Linked DNA regions of Homo sapiens. The protein of the gene in region 1 purifies or fractionates together with the protein of each later gene. This does not show direct contact. Each region holds a gene or a part of one and is shown in the gene's direction. Other genes may lie near its edges. The genes, in order: TRPC5, STMN2, SEC24B and STMN4.

The links.
Region 2: the proteins of TRPC5 (region 1) and STMN2 purify together in Homo sapiens (affinity purification with western blotting, with the first as the bait; one study listed by BioGRID). This does not show direct contact.
Region 3: the proteins of TRPC5 (region 1) and SEC24B purify together in Homo sapiens (affinity purification with mass spectrometry; one large-scale study listed by BioGRID and IntAct). This does not show direct contact.
Region 4: the proteins of TRPC5 (region 1) and STMN4 purify together in Homo sapiens (affinity purification with western blotting, with the first as the bait; one study listed by BioGRID). This does not show direct contact.

The regions. Positions count from the first base shown.
Region 1 is NC_000023.11:111,766,477-111,773,024, reverse strand, and holds the end of TRPC5 (short transient receptor potential channel 5), read left to right. Parts: 3' UTR 1-5,014; downstream 5,015-6,548. UniProt on the Homo sapiens protein: Forms a receptor-activated non-selective calcium permeant cation channel. Mediates calcium-dependent phosphatidylserine externalization and apoptosis in neurons via its association with PLSCR1.
Region 2 is NC_000008.11:79,647,980-79,653,761, forward strand, and holds part of STMN2 (stathmin-2), read left to right. Parts: intron 1-5,782. UniProt on the Homo sapiens protein: Regulator of microtubule stability. When phosphorylated by MAPK8, stabilizes microtubules and consequently controls neurite length in cortical neurons.
Region 3 is NC_000004.12:109,523,355-109,529,136, forward strand, and holds part of SEC24B (protein transport protein Sec24B), read left to right. Parts: intron 1-1,463; coding exon 1,464-1,587; intron 1,588-1,991; coding exon 1,992-2,150; intron 2,151-2,871; coding exon 2,872-3,045; intron 3,046-3,967; coding exon 3,968-4,078; intron 4,079-5,782. UniProt on the Homo sapiens protein: Component of the coat protein complex II (COPII) which promotes the formation of transport vesicles from the endoplasmic reticulum (ER).
Region 4 is NC_000008.11:27,240,321-27,246,102, reverse strand, and holds part of STMN4 (stathmin-4), read left to right. Parts: intron 1-1,377; exon of another isoform or gene 1,378-1,513; intron 1,514-2,301; 5' UTR 2,302-2,379; coding exon 2,380-2,392; intron 2,393-3,610; coding exon 3,611-3,706; intron 3,707-4,345; coding exon 4,346-4,426; intron 4,427-4,840; coding exon 4,841-5,049; intron 5,050-5,782. UniProt on the Homo sapiens protein: Exhibits microtubule-destabilizing activity.

The DNA.
Region 1 (6,548 bases):
CTCCACTTTTCAAATGACTTAATACCTTTTCCAAAAAGAACTTTATAGTTCTTATGGCAGTGCAAACCTCATCTGAAAACCTCAGTGGGAACTTTAGAGATAAATATGAGGCCAAACCTTAGCCTGAAAATACAAATGACCATTGGCATTCATGTTACATCATGGGTGAATCTCGTGTGGTGTTTTGACTAATAGTTTTAGTGCCCCAGACCTTGGTTTGTTAAATCATCAGGTAAAAAGTACTTGAAGATAGGCAGCAAATCCTTTGTTTAAAAGTACCTTAGAAAAATTGAGGCTGGGCATGGTGGCCCACTCCTGTAATCCCAGCACTTTGGGAGGCCAAAATGGGTGGTTCACTTGAGTCCAGGAGTTTGAGATCAGCCTGGCCAACATGGTGAAACCCATCTCTACTAAAAATACAAAAATTAGCTGGGCATGGTGGTACACGCCTGTAGTCCAACTACTTGAGAGGCTGAGGCATGAGAATCACTTGAACCTGGGAGGCAGAGGTTGCAGTGCACTGAGATCACACCACTGCACTCAAGCCTGGGCGGCAGAGCGAGACTGTCTCAAAAATAAATAAATAAAGGTACCTAAGAAAAATTGAGTATATTTTCTTGGTAATCAAGTTTTCAAAAGATTGCTCATATAGACATAGTCAATGCAAATTGATCCAAGTGTTCAGATCATTTAAATAACCTCTTCATACCTACTTCACAGCCCTACCTTCAATCCCTGCAGCTTTGCCTCAAAACTAAGGATATTTTAGATTGTTTCTTTGGCTTACTTTATCTAGATAATTGCTCCAAATATCCACCTTGTTGGTGTAGGACTCGGCAGTGGGATCTGAGTACCCCAAATGAATGTGAGCTTTACTTCAGCAGAGAGAAACATTGTTACCATTATATTTCCAATGAACCTTCCAGTAACTTTTTTTCCAACAGATGTGGGTTTTGGCTTGCTTTGCCTTTTGAGGGATGTCTGTAAAAGTGAGAACGTGTCTGTGTATATACATAGACACACATAACAAAACTTAACAGCATTTGATGGTTCTGCCCTTGGCCCTTTATCCCTTTAGGTAATTACTAGATCATTTTGAAGAGAGGGAAGCAAGAATAACTTTTCAATGAGACATTTCCTGAGCTGTGAGGAATTGCCAAAATGAACTGCCATGACAGCATCTTCTGTAGCACTTTTATATTGAGAGCTATCAAGATTTGAGGTTCCTGGTTTTGTTTAAAAAAAAAAAAAGCATTTAGGTCAGAATAACTTACCTGGAAGACTTAAATATACACATTTTTGGCAAAATAAAGTCAGTCTGCATACTTCAGATTTACTGTATACCTGAGATTTGGTGCATACTTGAGGTGTTAATATTCATTCATATGCTGGTACGTGGCCTAGGATTTTCATCTTTTGTGTGGTGATCCAGAGGAGGTGTTAGTGGGTGCTTTGTGAGAGCTTTACTTTTAGAAAATGTAATGTTTAAGAAACAGAGTTAACTGCTGGAATGATAGAGGCAGCAAGCCAGTGTGCTCTAGCATCTTTAGGCTCAGTATTTGTGTTATCCCCAACTTGAGTGGATTTGTATCTTGTACTTGATTACTGGATCTGAGTTGTGTTCATTCTTTTTCTAAAGATATACCATCAATGTTTGTGGTACCTGAGAGACATATACATATTAAGAATTATAATATTTAAACATAAAACTAAGTGGAATGCCCTTATGCCAAAAAGCTAGTTTTCTTATATGATGTGAAAAGATGTGAAAGCTCTAGAGGCTTCCTGTTACTACACAAATAAATGACAAACAATTTCTGTAGGAACATAAACAGCCCACAACTTTTGATCATTGAAATCAACTGTCATACATCCCTGAAAGTAGCATGTATCTGTCCTACCCTCCTCCCCCTCAAAGAACTTTCTTTATAACTCCAGTGACTTGATAGAACCAAAAAAGACTAACTGAAGTAGGTTAGAATGACTTGCAACGTGAAGGTCATTTTCACCATTTTTCAGCATATTTGCCCTTTGACTTTAGCAGGTTTTGGGGCAACCTAACATCCCAGGAGCTTACATACATACACACAAAAGGCACTGTCCTTAGTGGCACTTGAATGAATATGTGGCAGTGTGCCTTTTATTTAAGCCTAAGGTAGCCAGCCATTTGAAAGTACAATTAAGCTGGGATTGGCCATTTTGTATCTTTTCCCAGAAGTTCAATATATCCCCAAAATACTCATTGCCACCAATTGCCTTCCAACCTAGGAACCCTCTTGACAGTTCTCCGCTCTTACACAACTCTTAAAGCTGACCCTTGGAAGGAAGAAAGGAGGCTTTGGATTTTTGCTGGGATTGGGAAACTTAGATGGTGATAGTGTAGTAAAGAGACAGTTGGAAAAGCTTTTGAAGTAAGGATGAGTGAGGATATACACTTTAAAACACGGGGCTAAACCACCAAATTGTCAGTTTTTTGGATGGCCAAATTGAGATGAATAACCTGAATTAAAAATATAATTTAAAATGGTTAATTAAAACATTAGCATCATCATTTCTCCTTTAATGAAATTCAAAAAATGCAACAATATATGAAAGCAGAACTACCGGTAAATCATTTTTCAAATTTTGGGTCATATTTGGGTTAAATTTCAGATGTTAACAAGTTCTCAACCTTGGGATCACTGTAAATATAAGTTCAACACACCACACCCATAATGCAATATCACAGATGGGCTTTCATAAATATGTACACTTTAGCCAATTGGAAAGATCACTTCCTTCAAATTTTATCTAAGAAATAAAGTGGGTTTGTCAAAACAACATGAAAGAGAAATGAAAGGTAAGGAAGGGCACTATGGCAAAAAGCCAGATTATGTATCTGCTGTCATCTTTTAGCCTCATAAATTTGGAATAAACATAAAATAGGATAATGACTGATATTTTCATAAACATACCAGAACTTATGCACCCAAATGAACGTGGTCCTTTAAAGTAGTCACCTTAAAAAGCCATACCCATATTCTAATGATGCTGCCATTACTCTACCCACTTTGGACTTCTGCTTTTGAAATGACTTTCAAAGTCCACAGTACAATCTCTGAATATCCTCAATGGTAGAAAATCATGATCCTATAAGATTAAATTTTTAGGAATTTAGAAATTGCCAAAAGTAATTTTAGATCCACACTTGGTAAAACATGTGGTAGTCAAGATGAGTACCACTTTCTCTGGTTAAAAACAAACAAACGAACAAACAAAAAACATTTTCAAGTGCTACTACACAATAGGCACTTTGATAGGTGCAATTATAAAATAATGAGATTGTCTCTTGTGGGATTTGTAAGGGACCTGGAACTGTTCTTGGGAATCTAGTTTTTTTCCCCTAATTAACTTTATTGAGGAATGATTTATGTACAATTACCTGCATTCATTTAAAGTGTACAAATTGGTGAGTTTTCAGAGTTGTATATACCCCTGGAAGCACCAGCCAAAATCAAGTTATAGAATATCTCCATCACCCCCTCAAGAATGCTTGTTCTCCTTTGTATCCTGGAATCTAGTTTCAATTATGCTTGGAGCAGTGGTAGCCTTACATGAATAAGCACATAGCCTCCTGAAGAGAACACTTTAAAGAGCAATATATTTAGATAGAGAAGCTTCACTGATTTGGGAACAACCATAATGATTAACCCTTTGTGTTTAAACAGTAAAATACATTGAGTTCCAATGGCTTATGCTGTAAATAAACTCAGAATTGACTCCTCAAACTTATTTGATCCTTAAGAAATGACATTGTATAGCACAGAGGCTCTGGTGACTAGGCTGTTATCAGGGAGAGGGACAGTAAAGAAAAACCACTAACCTCCATAGAGAACAGAGGGGAGGATTTTGGACTCATAAGAACCCACGGTGGCAGAAGCAATGGAAAGAAACTCTAATAGGAAGATGGCAGCTAGCTAGCTGAATGTGTTCAGGTCATTTGAAAGTCACATATTCAGATTAAGTATTTCCTGTATAAGATCTAGTCATGGTATTTAAAGTATAGCCTCATCATGTTGTGGCCACACCTTGTAGGACCTCCTTGTAAAACATATTAAGCAATCAGTTTAAATATCCAAGGCAAAGTAACCTGTAGTCCAATAAATCAGTGATAACTGTGCTTAGTGTACGTGGGCAGGAGAAGCAGCCAGAATTCTCAAGTGTCTTAACAGGATAAGTGGGACCAATGACACCAAAATGAATATTATGTGAGCACATGAAGAGTCCTCTAAACCCAAAGGGTTAACACATTAGTCTGTGGTTTAATGTAAAAGGAAATTCAATTCGATAAATTAACTTTAAAATTAAGTGTTCAAATTACTACCTTAACAAAGTAAAAGTAAAGCTGTATCTTATCTCAACAGTAAAGACACAGACCTTCCCCAGGACACTTCAGATAAGGATAAACACATCCTTCTCAAGCAAATACATTTTAGTTTGTTTCTTATAATAGGAATGCACACCAGAGGTACTATTCAACAGAACAATAGTTAAACTCTTCACAGGATTCTATTTATTCCATATTTCTCAAAAATGGGGTTGAAATTAGGGATGGGAGTTTCTTTCTACTCAAAACAATGAATGCAGTCTGCAGCTACAAACTAACATTTGGTAGCAGGAAGGAGAATACTAGAGAATACGAGCTATGTGTAATTCACCTTCTAAGCCTAGTTGGCAGCCCCAACCACATATCACCATATAGAAAGTGTGTCAAATTTCAGTTTAAAATGATACATCTTGAGCATAATCATGAAAAGGGAAAATTCCAAATGTGTCTGTGTAAATGACACTGGCTTTGAAGACTATTTTCAAAGTGGAAATCTCTTTGAATAACTATCACTTTTATTTAAACACTTTCTGTAAGTGCACAGTGTCAATCTTAATGTATTAAAAAGAATCTTGTACAATAAAATAATTTTGTGTATTTTTAGCTTCAGTATCAACAAAATAAAGTATTTACTTTTTTCCCCTGAAATGTGTGACAACTCAGATTTTAAGGTGTTATGTTCCTCCCTTTTTCAGTGTAATCATTCGTAGCCACCTATTATTAACATTTATGAACAAAAGACTTCACAATGTAATTTGCCTAGCAGAAACACTAATGGGAGACCTCCACAGTCCAATATATTTTGAAAAGTATATGAGAATAAATATTCTGATTTTTATATCTTCCATTAAACAAAGCTGACTAGTATTTAAGAATTTAATAATAATTTATAAGAACTATGAGATGAAGTAAAGAGACCAATACAGTTTTAAAGCTATAGCTTACAACATTGAAAAACCTTAGAGGCCCAATCCTGGAAATTAATTATTCTTCATTGAGTACTTAAAAGTATGATACATATTGCATAGAACAGTTGGAATCTGTGAGACAGTGAGAAGACATATAAATGGAGGTTAAGCTGGTCATGATTAAACCAGTGTCATCTGAGGACATCTGAGCAATAATTCCAGAATCAGTTGACGTTTCTCCTTCAGCTTTTTTTGTAGTAACAGACTTTTCAGCAACTAGCTTTCTACTAATTCAGATTCCTGAAGTTTGATTGTCTTATTTTACTGATTAACTTTTACACCAGCAGGGCACTGGTTAGCATATCAGAAAAGCTTAACTTTCAGCTAAATAACTCACCTGTAAGTCCTGGCCTAATTATTTTAAGCATAAATGAGTGTACAACATTTACACACTGGTTAGATAAGCATAATTAAAATAAGCAGAAGTCACAAATGAGATAACATCTCACACCAGTTAGAATGGCAATCATTAAAAAGTCAGGAAACAACAGGTGCTGGAGAAATAGGAGCACTTTTACACTGTTGGTGGGACTGTAAACTAGTTTAACCATTGTGGAAGACAGTGTGGCGATTCCTCAAGGATCTAGAACTAGAAATACCATTTGACCCAGCCATCCCATTACTGGGTATATACCCAAAGGATTATAAATCATGCTGCTATAAAGACACATGCACACGTATGTTTATTGTGGCACTATTCACAATAGCAAAGACTTGGAACCAACCCAAATGTCCATCAATGATAGACTGGATTAAGAAAATGTGGCACATATACACCATGGAATACTATGCAGCCATAAAAAATGATGAGTTCATGTCCTTTGTAGGGACACGGATGAAGCTGGAAACCATCATTCTCAGCAAACTATCACAAGGACAAAAAACCAAATACCGCATGTTCTCACTCATAGGTGGGAATTGAACAATGAGAACACATGGACACAGGAAGGGGAACATCACACACTGGGGCCTGTCATGGGGTGGGGGTGGGGGGAGGGATAGCATTAGGAGATATACCTAATGTAAATGACGAGTTAATGGGTGCAGCACACCAACATGGCACACGTATACGTATGTAATAAGCCTGCATGTTGTGCACATGTACCCTAGAACTTAAAGTATAATAATAAAAAAAAAAACAGAAGTATATCTGACAAAGATTTGCAACCAGCATATACAAAGAACTCCTATAATGCAATAACACAAATTATTTG
Region 2 (5,782 bases), on another chromosome or scaffold:
TCCAGCTAACTCTCGTTGTTTTGATACCATTATTAATTATTTCTCTTTACTCTCATAAGTGTTCCACTTTGGACAATCAATTACATGAGCATCCTTAGCAGGGCACAGTGTTTAAGGGCATCTTTAAAATATTGTCTTTAAGAACATGTGGTTAAGAGAATGTCTGTGTTCAAATCCTGGTTCCACCACTTAAAAGCTGTGTGACCTCAAGCAAGTGACTTAATCTCCGTATGTCCTCCTTTGTCAATCTGTAAAATGAGACTAGTAATAGAACTTATGGAGTTAGTGTGAGAATTGGAAGGTTACTCTACAATAAAGACATATAACCAGCATGGTAAAAGGGTTAGCAATTACTATGTGAAGAAGCATCCAGTTTCTGACCTCACAGAGATTATCTAGCAAACTCATGATTTTATAAAGAAAAGAAGTTTCTCATCAACAGAGACTGAAATGCTACCATACAATATACGTTGCTTTTTTTTTTTTTTTTTTTTTGAGACGGAGTCTCGCTCTGCCACTCAGGCTCAGGCTGGAGTGCAGTGTTGCCACCTTGGCTAATTGCAACCTCCACCTCCCAGGTTCAAGCAATTCTCCTGCCTCAGTCTCCCAAGTAGCTGGGATTATAGGCACCCACCACCACACCCAGCTAATTTTTATATTTTTAGTAGAGACAAGGTTTTGTCATGTTGGCCAGACTGGTCTCAAACTCCTGACCTCAGGTGATCCACCCACCTCAGCCTTCCGAAGTGCTGGCATTACAGGCATGAGCCACCATGCCCGGCCAATATTTTTAAATATTATAAAATATTCTTTATCAAATTGCATAGAAGAAAAGACAGTTTGATAGGTAATAGATATATAAATAGGTCAGGCCAACTAAAAGTGTCCTGAAAAAATTAATATTGTGAAAACAAAAGGATTTTAATGACATTGATAAAATCTCACCCTAAAAGAGATTAAATTAAAAATCACCCTACTTGAACCAGTTCAGTGAGATTTCATTAGCATGCTCTCATTACTGGCATAATCAGCTTCAAAGTCACTAAGCCTCTGAAAGGAAGATGTGTTGCTTATTCTTAATAAAATGGCATAAAAGTAGATCATTAGTCACCAAACATGATAGACTTACCTTTTCCATTTGTTGGCATCTCACATTGTAGATGGCAATTAAAATGGAATCCAGGGAAAGAGGGGGTGGTTTGTATAGCAATGGATTATGAAACAAAGTACTGGATTATTCACCGCTTGACATTCAGGAAACATTCTGCTCCTTACAGAATATGGCACGTGGGCCACAGAATCTTCCGTGTGCTACCTTCTCGGTGAAGAAGAGCACCCCCAAGTTTCTTTTCCTAGGAGCTAACCACAGTAAACCCATTACACACTTTAGCAGAAGGGCTCATTCTAAAGGTCTTAGGATTTTAATCATTTTAAATTTCCTGTTATGCTTCAGGCTCTTCAACACAAAGTGAATATTGTACTCTTTGGTTTTACATAATTATATTCAATTGTCATATTTCAACAGGACATTATTTGTGACTTTAGATGGGTCAATAATGATTTTCATTGTCAGCAGTAAAGTCAATAATTACAGACACATCACCTACCCTACTTGTGTAAAAGCATTTTTTGGTACTAGGAGATTTAGTGTCTGATCAACGGTCCTGGATAGCAAGTAATATATCCCCCAAATAATGAAAAGTGACAAGAAAATAAATATGTTTACTTCAGAAATAAATGGAAAATTAGTGCTATCTAAAATGTAGTCTTAAGTCTCATCTGTGTACATAAAGTAAAATGAGTTTTATGTACTAGTTACTCAAATTTATCTTCCACTCCATTTGTATAGTAATTAAACTCTTACACTCAGTAATATACAAATTGGTAATTAACCTCTTTGCAAAATGTTAAAGTGTTCCTAAATGTACAATAAGTCTCCTTTCCTGTCTCATTGTTTTTCGCTTCACGTACCTCTCATGTAATTATTTCAATGATTGAGTTCAGTGTGAGGAGGTTTATGCCTAGAAAAGGTGCTCACCAATAACGTGCCTCAGTTCCCATAATAGCAAGATCGAGAAGGTTCTTTAGTCTCCCGGAACGTCACGTTGAACATCTCAGTTCTATATTTTGCCTTGACATTTGCATTATATCAGCTGATCATTGTCTTGCCCTAATTTTCCCTTTTAATATTTTAGTGACCTTCTATGTTAGGTACAGGTTATTTAGAAGTGTTCCTCCAAGGCCAGATACTTTTTCCTTGAACAATTTATTTTTAACAACTTTTAGCGATTTTCTCACTTCACCACCCTCCGTTTCATAAGTCCACGCAATCACAATTCCTTTCTGCTAATCTGCACAGTCAAGATATAAAGTAAGAATACCTATTTGAACATGTAGTGAGAACTTTACTTCTCTGCCAAAAATGAAGGAAAATGCTGCCACTTTTGTATGTCACATGTTTTTTATTCTACAGCCTCACTCACTTCATGTCATGTTTTAGTGCAGTTTTCTGGACTAACTGCTTATTTTCTCATTGATTAAACTGCCTATTTGCTCATTGGAATTAGAGCCAATTTTTTTCCTTGAGGGTCTGACTAGAAGATTAAACTATGTTCATGTGAGAATCAATTTCTACCTAAGAAATGAGTTAGAGGAGTTATGGGCAGCAATATCTATCTGGATGCTACACTGTGAAAAAGGAAGCGAGGTTATGCCTTTCTACCCCAATGGGGTAGCAGAGACCTCAGGAACTGAGGTAGATGCCCCCCTGGTTATTAGCGCCCCTGAATAATTTGTTCAAAAATTGACTGCTGGACAGGTGTCGTGTTGCACGCCTGTAGTCCCAGCTGTGCAGGAGGCTGAGGCAAGAGGATCTCTTGAGCCCAGGAATTTGAGGCTATAGTAAACTAAGGTCACACCACTATACTCCAGCCTGAGCAACAAAGCAAGACCCTGTCTCTAAATTTAAAAAAAAATATTGAATGCTTATGAATAGAGACTAATATAGGAAGTCATAAGTATTTCCTTGGGATAGAATGCTTTCCACCATAATTGACTTGACATCCTGTATTTTTGTATGTGTGGACTTAAGTTTTAAATATTTGAAACACAGACAATTATTAAGTCCTGCAAATGTGTGAGTTAATAGTGGATATAACATTCCCTTCCAGGGTGTAAGAAAAGGTACCACAGAAGTGAGCAGCCCTGAAGCACAGCCTGGCCTAGTTTGGCAGGTCTCTGTGAGTTAGCAGCAGACTCACGTGACCACACTCTGTACTGCCTTCTGTTTCTGTTTCACCCCATTAATTGTGCTAAAGAAATGCACTTGACACCTATGCTGTGTAATCTCATTTAGCCCCAATAGCAACAAAAGTACTAACCCCATTAAATTGAGTCATTTCAAACTGAGCCAAATGTTGCACTCCAGTAAATGGAGTAGGCATTGGTTATAATGGGAATTCTCCATTATTCATAATGGAAACCACAGGAGTTTGTTCATGCAGATCAAATGTGTCCCACCAAGGCAAGAAGTATGGAAAAGTGGTGTTGCTGTATTACCTTGTAATTTCAAAGCCTTCCCGTCTGAATCTTATTTCCCTGCTGTTTCCTCTTGACTTTGGTTCTTTCACAAAGGAAAATTAAGAACACAAATATAAACATTAAGTTAAAACACAACTGAACAAAGTGCCAAACTTAATTGGAGCATCTGAAAATGAAACATTAGGCAGTTGCAGTGGCCTCTTGATAATAATTCACAGTAACTCTCTGTAAGCTGATCCTGTCTGAAGAGCAGCAGGCACAAGGCCCCTGGCCATGAAGTCCATCTCAAAGGGCCAGGCTCAGCAAAGCAGGATGCAAACCCAGGCTTTCCAAATACCAGGTTGGGGCTCATGTCACTGTGCCACAGGAGCTTCTGTAGAAAGGCTACTTGAAAAAAGTGGCCATTAAAAATCCAGGTGGATCCTATCTAGGGCAGTGTTGGAAACACTGATCTATGGGAGGAGGAGCAGGAAGGAATTGTTTAACCACTGAGCAGAAATGTTACATTGCTACCTGCCTTTAGCAGCTGTGGCTGATGGGTACCAGTTGCTAAGAAGAGCATTACCTAACAGTGTATTAAGATAGAAAAATGATTTTAAAGCACGGCACTTAGAGAATGTTGAAGTTTTACTTTGCTTTATTTTGATTTGTTTGGTTTGACTTTGTCTCCTGGAGCATCCTCCATGGATTTCTGTTCATTACAAGAGAAACCTAGGGCTCTAACCCAATTCCTAATTCTTGGACACATTGCACCCTTGTTTTGTGATAATCCAGCCTTCTTCCTTGAGAAGGTTTGCTGGACTGGAGGTTACATGTATTGAATTTTCTAAAATGAAGGTGCAAAGCTGTCTCCTCTTATTTCTTTGTGGTGCTCACTTCACTGTGAGATTTCCTATCAATACAGCCCAAGTCAGTGGGCATGCATGAGGTGGAGATGAGGGAGTTAGGAAGGACTTGGACTCTCATCAACCATCAGGATCCCTGAATCCACTAACTGTTCATAATCAAAGAAGTTTGAACAAATACTTCACACACATGAAATTGCCAAAATTTTGCATTTGAGTTGTTATACCAGTAAGTCCAGTTGCCATCATCTCCTTGTCACAAGTGTCTTAAATTTTGCTTTTGATAATAATGATTACCACTCATTCAGTACTAACTTACTTGATATTAGACACTGCATTAAATACCTTGCAAACATTATTTTGTTTGATCCTGACAACCATATGAGATAGGTACTATTCTTATCCATTACCAAAAAAATTAATTTCATGAAGACTTTTCCCAGAGAGAGAAACTTTAAATATTTACACACACACCTCTCTCCCTGTAACAATTCCGTAGTCCTGATAACAGCAAATAAGCAAAGTCTGTGTAGGATGCTTTACCAACAGTCCCACCTAGAGGCAGGAGAGTGAACCAGCTAGAAAATATTTTATTCATATTTCTTCCAGAAAGGCTCCATTGGAGTTTGAACTCAATTTATGTTATAATTTTCTTATTATTTTTGTATTGGTTTTCCTGAAACCAATACAAAGTAAGAAAGCATTGGTTCCACTAAAAATGTCCTAAAACCAGCCAAGCACAGTGGCTCACACCTATAATCCCAGTACTTTGGGAGGCCGAGGCGGGTGGATCACTTAAGCCAGGAGTTCAAGACTAGCCTGGCCAACATGACGAAACCCCATCTCTACTAAAAATACAAAAATTAGCAGGGTGTGGTAGCACACACCTGTAATCTCAGCTACTCAGGAAGCTGAGACATGAGAATCGCTTGAACCTCAGAGGCAGAGATTACAGTGAGCAGAGATCACGCCACTGTACTTCTGCCTGGGTGACAGAGCGAGACTCTATCTAAAAAAAAATAAACACATAAATAGTAAAATGTCCTGAAACCATTATGGGGTTAAAGCAAGAGGCAGGGCTGGTTCCCAGGATTTTCTGTCTAATCTCCAGTGAGCCACAGACCTATTCCTGATCAACTTGAGAATAAACACATCAGTAAAGATGTGTAAGGCTGTCTGACTTTCCCATTTCTGTAGAATTTTATTTGAAGAGAAGTTTCTCCTTTCTCCAGGCCCCATATTGTTTATACAAAAAGACCTTTCCAGTAAATGTCCACAACCACTACCATCAACTAAAATGTTTTCCCACTAATGCTTTCAATGGTAATCAGTATTTAACAGGGCACTTAGGATTATTTTTTGATCAACCATTGTTTAGATATTCCCACTTATAATTA
Region 3 (5,782 bases), on another chromosome or scaffold:
AGCTACTCAGATGGCTGAGGCAGGAGAATCACTTGAACCAGGGAGGCAGAGTTTGCAGCGAGCTGTGATCACTGCCACTGCACTCCAGCCTGGGCAACAGAGCGAGACCCGGTCTCAAAAAAAAAGAAAAACAATAATAATAATAACAATGAAAGGAATATACGAAGCTGAACATTACTTGGGTTTTATGTGAAGATTTGGTCAGGCATTTTTAAGCCCTATTTCAAATAATAAATGAACAAAAATATTCATTTTTCTTTTGTACAAGTTCTGTCTGGCCTTAACATATTTGAGAAAATATCATTATAAGTAGTTATGAGTATGAATTAAACAGTTTTAATAGTGTCATAAATCTTTAGCCACATATCCAGATTTGCCTTAGGATAAATTCCTAGAAGTGAAATTATTGGGTTAAAGGGCATAATCTTTAAGTTATTAAATAAAGAATGTTTTGTTTATTTGGGTTTTTTAATCAACTTCTCTTCTTAAGGACTCTCATCCTGTAACCACCATTAAGTAGCATTGCTTTTTTTATTCTTCACCAATATGCTAGAGAAAAAAAGGCACCATATTTCACCCTTTATAGAAATTGTATTTTAAAATTGCATTTGAGAAGGAAGCTAATTTTAAAATAAGTATGTATTTTAAACTCATCAACAAGTGTAGCTGGCATTTAGTTCGTTGACCCATTACAATCCATTATAAATTACTGTGGTGTTTTGAACACAGGAAGCTGATATATATTTACTGAATCCTTTGATAGAGCTTTGTTTTGATTTGTTTTGTTTTCTCATTTAACTTTCAAAAATATTCTCTATCTGTCTGCCTAGGACTCTAAAGTTTCAGTATCTGTTCTGGTTTACATATTCCTTCATATCCTTAATTCCTTATATTAGAGTAAGCTCTAATATAATCATCATACAGTGTAATTAAGAGGATTGAAACTTTTTTTTAGGAAATGTTGTATGATGATTAAGAACTTGGAGACTCTCTCCAGTGTCACCTTCTCAGCTCAAGTCTTCTCATACCAAAAGAAACACCTTCCTTAATCTTTTACTCTCTTAAGTTATTTAACAATATTTAATAATGGTTAACAGCACTCATTCTGCAGCCAGATTTCTTGGGTTGATATTCCAATATCCACTTCTCAATATCTATGTAATCTTGGTCAAGTTACTTAATCAGTTATTGCCTCAGTTTCTTCGTCTGAAAATGTAGATGATAAAAACCATATGAGATGTGTTATGAAAATTAATTTGTGTGAAACAGTGCTGGCACATAAGTGTTTTTTATAAAGATTATCTATCATTATTATTATCATAGGGAATCTGCACCAAATGCCTAGACATTTAGAAAACTCTTAGTTTGGTAGGGAGGCAGAGGATATCCTTTTTGTTATAAAAATGACATGAAAATATGAGCATAAAGATTGCTAGCTCTTACTATATGATCTGTTGACTTAGGTGGTACAACATCTTGGCCCTGCAACTGATTTTTATAAGAAACTTGCATTAGATTGCTCGGGACAGCAAACTGCAGTGGATTTGTTCCTTTTAAGTTCACAGTATTCTGATCTTGCTTCTCTAGGTAAGGAAAGTCATCATGGGTACATTTGTTTAAATGAACATTTTTAATGCATAATTAAATCTAAACTCTTCAGTAAGCATTCTCTATATTTTAGGGAGAAAAGCATGTGCATTAGATAGACAATATCTATGAAAACTACCAGTAAAGTTTAAAGCACTATACAAATATAAAATGTCACTTGTATTTTGTTTAGATAGCATGATTCCCTTACCATTCTGCTCAACAGTAAACTTTATCATATATTTTATAGATATTACTGTTTTCTCAGATTTGTATGTTCTTATTTTGATGGCTTAGGTTTTCTCATGACTTAGATTTCTTCATAATGTAGAATCTGTACTACTGTTGGACAAGTAAAATATTATTATTTCTATAGCTAATACTTTTTGTATTTCTCTCTAAAGCTTGCATGTCCAAGTATTCTGCAGGGTGCATCTATTATTATCCATCATTCCACTATACTCACAATCCTTCACAAGCAGAAAAGTTACAAAAAGACCTAAAACGGTATCTCACAAGAAAAATTGGGTTTGAAGCTGTTATGAGAATAAGGTGTACTAAAGGTATGAAGTTGTAAAAGTTATATTTTATATTAAATACTTGTATCAAAGTCAGTGAGCATTCCATGTATTGACTACCTCTGACTGTTCATGATGGAAGACTGTTTGATCTCATTAGCTATACCATGTTTTAAATAGATAATAGTTATTGAATAATCCTTGCCCAATTTTTAAAAATAACTTGAATAAGTAGACAAAAGTAATGTTTGATTTACTCAGAAGAACCTAAGAGAAAGCCTATATTAGAAATGATTTTAGAAGGAGAATTAGAGGAATAGGGAAGATCTTAAATAAGAATTGTCAAAGTAAGGGTCTTTGCCTTCATAATCATTTAATGTACACTTCCTTGGTTTTATGTGAATATTTGTTTTAATCCTTTATTTTACCTTTATTTTAAATCTAGGATGAGTTATATAATAACCCTCATTTGCTTAATTTTGTAAATTAAATGTTTAGTCAGATTATGTCTGACTTCAAGTCACATGTGAGAAAATGTAAATAAGGTTAGGTGTCAATACAAGTGAAATGTATAGTCTCCCTTTTATATAACGTCCACTAGTTTTTTTGAATTAATATTTTAGAAACTCTGCCTATGCTTGAACCTTGACTCCCCAGTTATCCTTTTGATTCAAAATCATAAACATCTTTGACTTAAAAAAGTAACTTTAGCTTGAGGTGAAGATACTATTGTTAACTTGATTTTTTATGATTTTCTCCTTTTTAGGTCTTTCAATGCACACTTTTCACGGTAACTTCTTTGTCCGTTCTACTGATTTGTTATCCCTTGCCAACATCAATCCTGATGCTGGATTTGCGGTGCAGTTGTCAATTGAAGAAAGTTTAACAGATACTTCCTTAGTATGTTTTCAAACAGCCCTATTATATACATCAAGCAAAGGTAATGTTAACAGAAATGAAATATAGTCTGCAGCAGTAATTCCTCCCTCCTTTCACATGGCCTTTAGTGGAGTGGGGAAAAAGAATGAATACACAGTGGGAAGTAATGGAATTTGTATTAGTTAATCAAACATATGTTGTTATTTTCTTTCTTTTTTTAACTCTCACTTTTGCATCTTTAAATAGCACACTTTTTTAATTTATGGAAGACTTGTATTCTTAGAATCTTGTTTCAAAACAGTTCATGCTAAATCCAGCTATGCCATTCTTTGTATTATTTCTTGCCCCAAAAAGTAAAAAACTGCTTAGCAATTAAGGCCTTCATTTGTTACTTGACAGTTAAGTTTTCTGGTATTTTACTCTATAGGATATAATTTAGAATGAGTGATATAGCGTATGTTCATACTCTGCAGATTTGGAGAGTGTTTAATTTTCTTTTAAAAATGTTCATTGTAAAACTTGGTTTTTACATCTCAAAATCCTGTTGGTGATGTAATCTAGCCAAAACAATAACTTGAATAAAAATTCGACTTGTGGCTGGATGTGGCGGTGGCTCACGCCTGTAATCCCAGCACTTTGGGAGGCCGAGGTGGGTGGATCACCTGAGGTCAGGAGTTCCAGACCAGCCTGGCCAACCTGGTGAAACCCCATCTCTACTAAAAATACAAAAATTAGCTGGGTATGGTGGCAGGCACCTGTAATCCCAGCTACTTGGGAGGCTGAGGCAGGAGAATCACTTGAACCTAGGAGACAGAAGTTGCAGTGAGCTGTGATCACACCATTGCACTCCAGCCTAAGAGACAGAGCAAGACTCCGTCTCAAAAAAAAAAAAAAGAAAGAAAGAAAGAAAAAAAGTATTTGACATGTTTGCTTTGCTTTATTTCCTTTTTGATCTAATGTATTTTCAATGACTTTTTTTTTAGGTGAGCGGAGAATTAGAGTACATACACTTTGTTTGCCAGTGGTAAGTTCACTAGCAGATGTATATGCGGGAGTGGATGTACAAGCTGCCATCTGCCTTCTGGCAAACATGGGTGAGTAAAAATTGAAGGAACATGTGAAATGTATTTTTCTATCTTAAAAACTGAAGCTTGGCTGGTGGCAGTGCGTCCGCCTGTAATCCCAGCATTTTGGGAGGCTGAGGCGGACGGACCACGAGGTCAGGAGTTTGAGACCAGGCTGGCCAACATGGTGAAACCCCATCTCTACTAAAAATACGAAAAAATAGCCGAGCGTGGTGGCAGGCGCCTGTAATCGCAGCTTCTCAGGAGACTGAGACAGGAGAATTGCTTGAACCTGAGAGGCGGACGTTGCAGTGAGCCGAGACCGCATCACTCCAATCACTCCACTCCAGCTTGGGCAACAGAGTGAGACTCTGTCTCAAAAAAAAAAAGAAAGAAAGAAACTGAAGCTAGGATTTTCTCTTATTTAAAAAGCATATGTTTTACATTTTTATTTACTGCATTGTGAATCAGACTGTCCTCACATTTCTTCCTTAATCTTACTTTCAAAATCTTTGAGGGAATTCATAATCTCTAAAAATGTGGTAAAAACTGAAATGTCCTTCAAATAATATATGCACAATCCATGGTACACTCATACAATAGAATATAATGCAGCAATAAAAAGGAATGAACTGTCAATACTTAAACAAACATGGATGCCTCTCAAAGACATTGTGCTGAATAAAAGAAGCTAGACTCAAAAAGCTGCATAGGCCAGGTGTGGTGGCTCATGCCTGTAATGAGCTCATTCCAGGTGGGCTCATTCCCAACACTTTGGGAAGCTGAAGTGGGCGGATCACTTGAGGTGAGGAGTTCAAGACCAGCCTGGCCAACATGGTGAAACCCTGTCTCTACTAAAAATACAAGAAAAAAATTAGCTGGGCGTGGTGCTGCACCCCTGTAATCCCAACTACTTGGGAGGTTGAGGCAGGAAAATCCTTTGAACCCAGGAGGCAGAGGTTGCAGTGAGCCGAGCCGAGGTCTCGCCACTGTACTCCTGCCTGAGTGACAGCGTGAGACTGCATCTCAAAAAAAAAAAAAAAAAGCTACATACAAATGATTCTATATAAATGACATTCAGGGAAAGGGAAAATTATCAAATGGTGACTAATTGGGATTGAGACTGAGGGAGGGTTTTACTGCAAAGGGGCAAGTATAGGGGGATAATTTTGTAGTGATGGAACTATTGTGTATCCTGATTGTGGTAGAGATTACATGGCTATGCATTTGACACATAACCACTATAGAACTGTACTTAAACTAATTATATGTAAGTCTAAAAAAATCCTTTTGAGAATTAACATAGCACTTAAATGTTTTCAATGAATTTGCCTTGTAGATGAACTTAGACATGAAACAAGCCTTGCTATTTCCCATGTAGTCCTAGAGAAAGAGAGTTATTAATACTAATTTGGGAAAAATTATAATAGCATTTACCGAAGGATCCAAATTTTTTTAAATAACAGAAGCATTTAATCAGTCCTGGTGTGGTGGCCCATGCCTGTAATCCCAGTACTTGGGAGGCTGAAGCAAGTGGATCACTTAACTTCAGGAGTTCAAGACGAGACTGGTCAATGAAGTGAGACCCTGTCTCTACTAAAAATACAAAAATTAGCTGGGTGTGGTGGTGCACACATGTGGTCCCAGCTACTCAGGAGGCTGAGGCAGGAGAATCTGTTGAACCCGGGAGGCAGAGGTTGCAATGAGCCAAGATCGCACCACTGCACTCCAGCC
Region 4 (5,782 bases), on another chromosome or scaffold:
AGCATTAGTGAGTATCTAGTTCTTCCACTGGTTACAATGGAAGAGCTTACAAGTCGAGAGACCTGGAGACTAGACCCAGCTCTGCACCCTTAGAGCTGTGTGACCTTAAGCAAGCGTCTGAACTTCTCCAAACCCCAGGTTCTTCATCTGAAAGCAAAGCTGATGATGCCTGTCTTGTCAGCCTAAGCCAGCTTCATGCAAAGTTAGACTAGGATAATGTGGTGGGTGTCGAGTGCCCCCTGAGCACAGGGTCCTATCATCATTTCTAGCTCGGGCTGGAGGCACATTCCATAACTCCAACTGCCTGCTCCTACTCCATCTGCCTTCTTTCTCAGGCATCCCTCTCTGCCTCCCCTCCACCTATTCAGGCTTCCACTTCTGATCCTTTCCCCAGGTAGAAGTCCAAGGCCACTGCCACTCTGGCAAGGGCTTACTAACTCTGCCAGTGACTTGTCAGTCAGCCTGGCCATGAGCAGAGACTGCGGGATGGGGTGTCATGACCAGGGAAGTCGCATGCAGGCACCAGGCCTGCCTCTCTGTTCAGGGACTCACTGGTGCCGTCAGGACCAGCTTAGTTCTGCAGAGAGAAGACCCATTGTGCTGCAATGACAGGGGCCTCTGGCTCCAAAGCACAACAACAAGAACAAGGAGAACAAAGCAGTTTAAGTCCAGCTGGACCTCGGTTCAAATGGGCACTCTAACTTGCTAGCTGCATTGCCCTGAGCAGGCACATAAACCCTCTGAGCCTCAGTTTCCCCATCCGCACATGGCAACAACAGTCCTTACTTGTGGGTCCAGAGGTAATGGCTCTGAAGCAGGCATGTGGCACCTGATAGCTGTCCTGATGCAAAAGACAGGGCAAAGAGACTAACATTTATTCAGTGCTTCCTGTCTGCTGGATGCTATGCATGGGTTTTTCTCATTTAATTTGTACAGCTCTGTGCAGGATTAAGATGGAGAAAGAGACTAGCGAGAGCTGGTAAGAGAGGTGATACTTGTATTTGACCCCACACTGGTCTAGCCCTAAAGCCAGAGCTGAGTTCACTGCCCCATTACCTCCTCCTGCCAGTCTCCAGCCAGCACAGAAAGGCAAGGGGTTTGAAGTGGGTCTCAGAGTCTCTTTGGCTGGCAAGGATGTAGGCAGTGAGCCTGCTGGCTCTCGCCACCCTCCCCTGGCACAGTGACCACAGAGGGTGACCGAGGATCAAATGGTCCTGAGGATGGCCACTCACTGCTGGCTGCTCCTCACTCTCTTTGTAGTAGCCTTCATGGGCTCCCATCACCTCCACCCCTCTGATCCTCCCAGATCTGCTCCTTCCCTGACTCTCCTGTTTTGTCTCCTGCCCCGCCCCCTCCTCTTTCCACTTTCTGATCTAGCGTCAACTAGCTTGACCTGATCCCACGGACACTGAGTGGCGTTCTCACCCCGACCCTTGGCCGTGATGTTCCCTTGCACAATGCCCTCCTGCCAGCTCCTGTCTGATTCTAACTCATCCTTCAAGGCACTGCTCAGGTGCTACCGACACCAGGGACACCTCCCAGGCTCCCTGGCAAATGCTGGGGGTGTGGAGCCCTATTTCTGTGTCCCACAGCAATTCCTCATGCTGATTTCTGGTGGTGTGGAGCCCTATCTCTGTGTCCCACAGCAATTCCTCACGCTGATTTCTGGTGGTGTGCTGGCTGGCCCTGTGATGACGACATGATTCCTTAATGTTTTTCTTTCCTGTGTCCCGGATTGTCTTAAATAGGGTCAAACACAGCTTAGGTCAGTCGTCTTGGGAAAGGGAAGGTGAGAGGCATCTGAAGAGGCCTGTTAACATCCTATGTCCAATTCCCTCTCTTCCCATATCAGAATTGGCCCAAAGACTTCTGGGGCATGTGCGGGGAGAAGTCCAGGACACACAGTTATTTTATGAATGCCTCCCAGCTGATTCTGCAGGAGGATTTGCTTCTCACCCTAACCCTTGAATTGGGCCAGGTTCTTGAGCTATGGAGGGAGACAGATGAGCACCCCTTGATCCATACGTTTTTGGGAAACCCACGCTTGCATGTGCTAGGGGGCTTGAGACTGGAAAGCCAATTATGAAGTATCATTAGTTCATGGAATCTGAGCTTGTTTAGCATCATTGTGGGAGGGAGGTCGGGGTAGGGGACCCCCAGGGAGAGTTGGTGGGGAGAGGGCCTGGAGGAAGAGCAAATGAGGTACCCCTGAGATTCCCTCCCCAGTGTATAAAGACCTTTCTTATGAGAATAACCTGTCTAATCCATCGATGGTAAAATCCTGTCCTCCCCTTTTCTCAGGTTGGTGACAGCGTCCCAAGCTGGTGACAGACCCACTCTGTAACTTTCAGCTAGATTCAGCCACCAGATCCCAGAAACATGACCCTTGCTGGTAGGTACAAAAACCATGTGTTAAGGGGCGTAGGCTATTCCCCCTGCCCTCACCCAACATGGACTCACAGAAGCAGGGAAGAACACAGCTGGCAGGAAGCACACGGGGTGTGTGGGGGGGTGCAGGTAGTGATGGGAGGCTTGGGGGCATGCAGGCAGTGGCGGGAGGCACACCACTGCCTGTCACCACAGGCGACAAGTTGAACAAGTGGTGGGGGGTGTGTCACAGCTGAGATTTTCTTCCTTTTGCTCATCTGTATATGTGTGTTTTTTTTTAAGTTTTTATGATGCCTATATATTATTTTTGCAGTTACACGTATTTTCAAATCTGTAAAAGGAAGCCAGGTATAGTGGCATATGCCTATAGTCCCCAGTATCAGGAGTCTGAGGCACAAGGATCGCTTGAGCCCAGGAGTTTGAGTCCAGCCTGGGCAACATATTGAGACCCTCATCTCAACAAAAAATTGTACAAGCAAATGAGGATGGGGGCAACACCTGCGCTGTGCTAGGGGTCAGCTAAGGGCTGCAACCTGAGCAGCCAGACACACGGGCCCCAAGGCGGTGAGGAGAGGGACTTTCAGGAGCCAGGACAGCTCTGGCCCCTGACATCCCAAACACAGATAGACTAGAGGGTGGCGGGGATATGCTCCAGCTTTTGGGGACACCAGCGACCCCCAGGCTCTGTGCACTGTGTTGGAAAGGTCAGAGAAGGCTTATAGCCTGACCTTGTGAGGGGCAGACCAGAGGGATGGTGGTGAGGACGGTCCCCTCCTATCCAGCTCCTTAACCCTGCAGGCCAGCGCTGCCAGGTATTTGGAGTAGAATGGAGTGTGGGTCTCCTGTGTCCTGGAGAAAAAGAATCGGAATGTCCTGGGGCAGATGTTGGGGGATGGAGAGCTGAGGCACTGGTGCTTGGGACCTTTCCATGAGGGCATTTTGCTTTCTGGTCTGGAAGGGGAGGAGACATACTGTGGAGAAGGATCTGATGCTCTGGAAGGCTTAGGTTTCCACAGGAGACAGGAGTGGGTTCGAATCCCACACAGGGATCCTGAACAGCACGGCTCAGGGCGAAAGGCCTGGATCCCCAGGCTTGGCGTGTGCCTGCGTGGTTTGAGTGCCTTTATGGAACCCTGGGCTGCTCAGAGCCCCAGACCCGTGAGGACGCTGACTTCTGAGGCTAGGAGAGGCGCCATCCTCACCTGACTGGGTGTTTCCGCAGCCTACAAAGAGAAGATGAAGGAGCTCCCGCTGGTGTCCTTGTTCTGCTCCTGCTTCCTGGCCGATCCCCTGAATAAGTCGTCCTACAAATATGAAGGTCAGTGAAGGCTCAGCCAGGAAAGTGAGGGGCGGGGGGGCCCTGTGTCCTGTCCTCATAGGTCCTGCACCCCGACCCCAGTCCCGTGAATCTCTCCTCCCGAGACAGTTTCCTTCCCAGTGCCGATGAAATCACAGCGGGTGAGCCCGAGGGTCTGAGCTGCAGTGGTCCAGCCTGGGCACTAGGGGGAGGCCATGAAGGTCTGCATCAGGCGCCCCCCAGAGTGCACTCGATCTTGTCACCTCTGTGCATGCATCCAGCAAATCGAGACTGGGGGGTATGCAAAGGTGAGCCAGACAGATATTCTACCTGTGGGGAACATCTAGACCAGAAGAGAAGATGAGACGATGTGAGTCAGTTTCCAGGTCAACAGGTCTCCTCTGGGAAGGGTAGAGAATGCTCTGGGAGAGTCCAGAGGTGGGAAGAGGAGGTTCTGTGGCAGCCATGCTGTGTGGGGCCTGTAGCCGGGACAGCCCCAAGACACCAGCAGGGAGCACTGGGTGGCCACGTCCTCACCAGGGGTGCTCGGGGACCAGGTCACCTCCTAATGTCCTGGTTAGAAGCAGAGATGGGTTTGGTTTGGTCTGGCACCAAGGAACAGGCATGCTCGGATGACCTGAGGTTGTTTTTTCTGTCTAGGCTGGTGTGGGAGACAGTGTAGGAGGAAGGATGAAAGCCAGCGGAAAGACAGTGCTGACTGGAGAGAAAGAAGAGCTCAGGGTAGGAGGGAGGCAGCGGAGGGATTCCGCAGGCCGAGCGTCAGATGGGCTGTGGCCGGGGGTGGGCGGGGGCTGAAACGCACCCCTGCCTGTCACCACGGACGACAAATTGAGCAGCTCAGCAGTCAGAGGAGGCTGGTGGGGGAAGCAAAGGCAAAAGCAGCCAGTGTCGTAGGAAATCACATTGCCTGGGGCCCCCTATTCTTGCAGGCTGAAGCCTCACTGTTGCTACAAACTCCTTCAGCCCCGTCAGAGGCCATTGCCCTTAGGTACTAGGGTGTAGGACTAAGCCAGACCCCAGTCTCCAGCTTGCTTGGGGCCCCAGTTCTCCCACTCCCGTGTGCATGCGCCGCATGCTTGCTGGGTGCCTGTGCATTCTTCAGGACGTGAGCAGCCCCTTCTCTGCCCTCTGTAGCAGACACGGTGGACCTGAATTGGTGCGTCATTTCCGACATGGAAGTCATCGAGCTGAACAAATGCACCTCGGGCCAATCCTTTGAAGTCATCCTGAAGCCACCCTCCTTTGATGGGGTTCCCGAGTTCAACGCCTCCCTGCCAAGGCGGCGAGACCCATCCCTGGAAGAGATCCAGAAGAAACTAGAAGCGGCTGAGGAGCGAAGGAAGGTAAATGCTGACCCTTCCTTCTTTCCTCCCTCTCAGCATAAAGGGGAGGGAGGTGGAGAAGACAGGTGGTGGACCTGAGCTGGGATAAGCTCATCACCAATCTGCAATATTTAGGGAGCATCTCCCGAGTGTGCGGTGGAGAATGAGACACCATTGAGGGAAACAAAGAACTAAACACCCTTGGCCTCTTGCAGCTCACAGTTTGGTTAGGGGGATAGGACATTGCTATGTTCCTCCAAGAGGTGGCCCTATATGCATGGTGGCAAAAATAAGACTGACAAATACTAAGGATTTAGGGAAAGGCTAGGGAATTAAGGAAAGAGCTTCTTCGTTGGAGGAGGGAGAGAAGATCATGGTGTAGTGCATCTCGAGGCCCGGGATGCCTTCTATGGATTCTCATGGCTTGATTCTGATACCGTCTTCTATGTGTAACTTTTCTTTATCTTTCAAAAAGAAAATAATCCCCTATCATGAATTCCTTCAGTGCATCCTGTCTACACCTTAGGGCATATGTCTACACTAGTCTGGATTTTAGTGATGTATATATGTCTTACCTCTGTGAGACTTTTTTTTACCCCAAGCTGTTAGACCAGTGCCTGGCACATAGTATAAGATCATTTAGTGTTTGTGAATGAATGAATGAATGATGGCAATGAGCAAAAGGGCCATGAAGGTATTTAGGAAAAGGCTGGGAAAAAAAATCAAAGAATGTGGAAGGCTCTGAAAGTGGTGG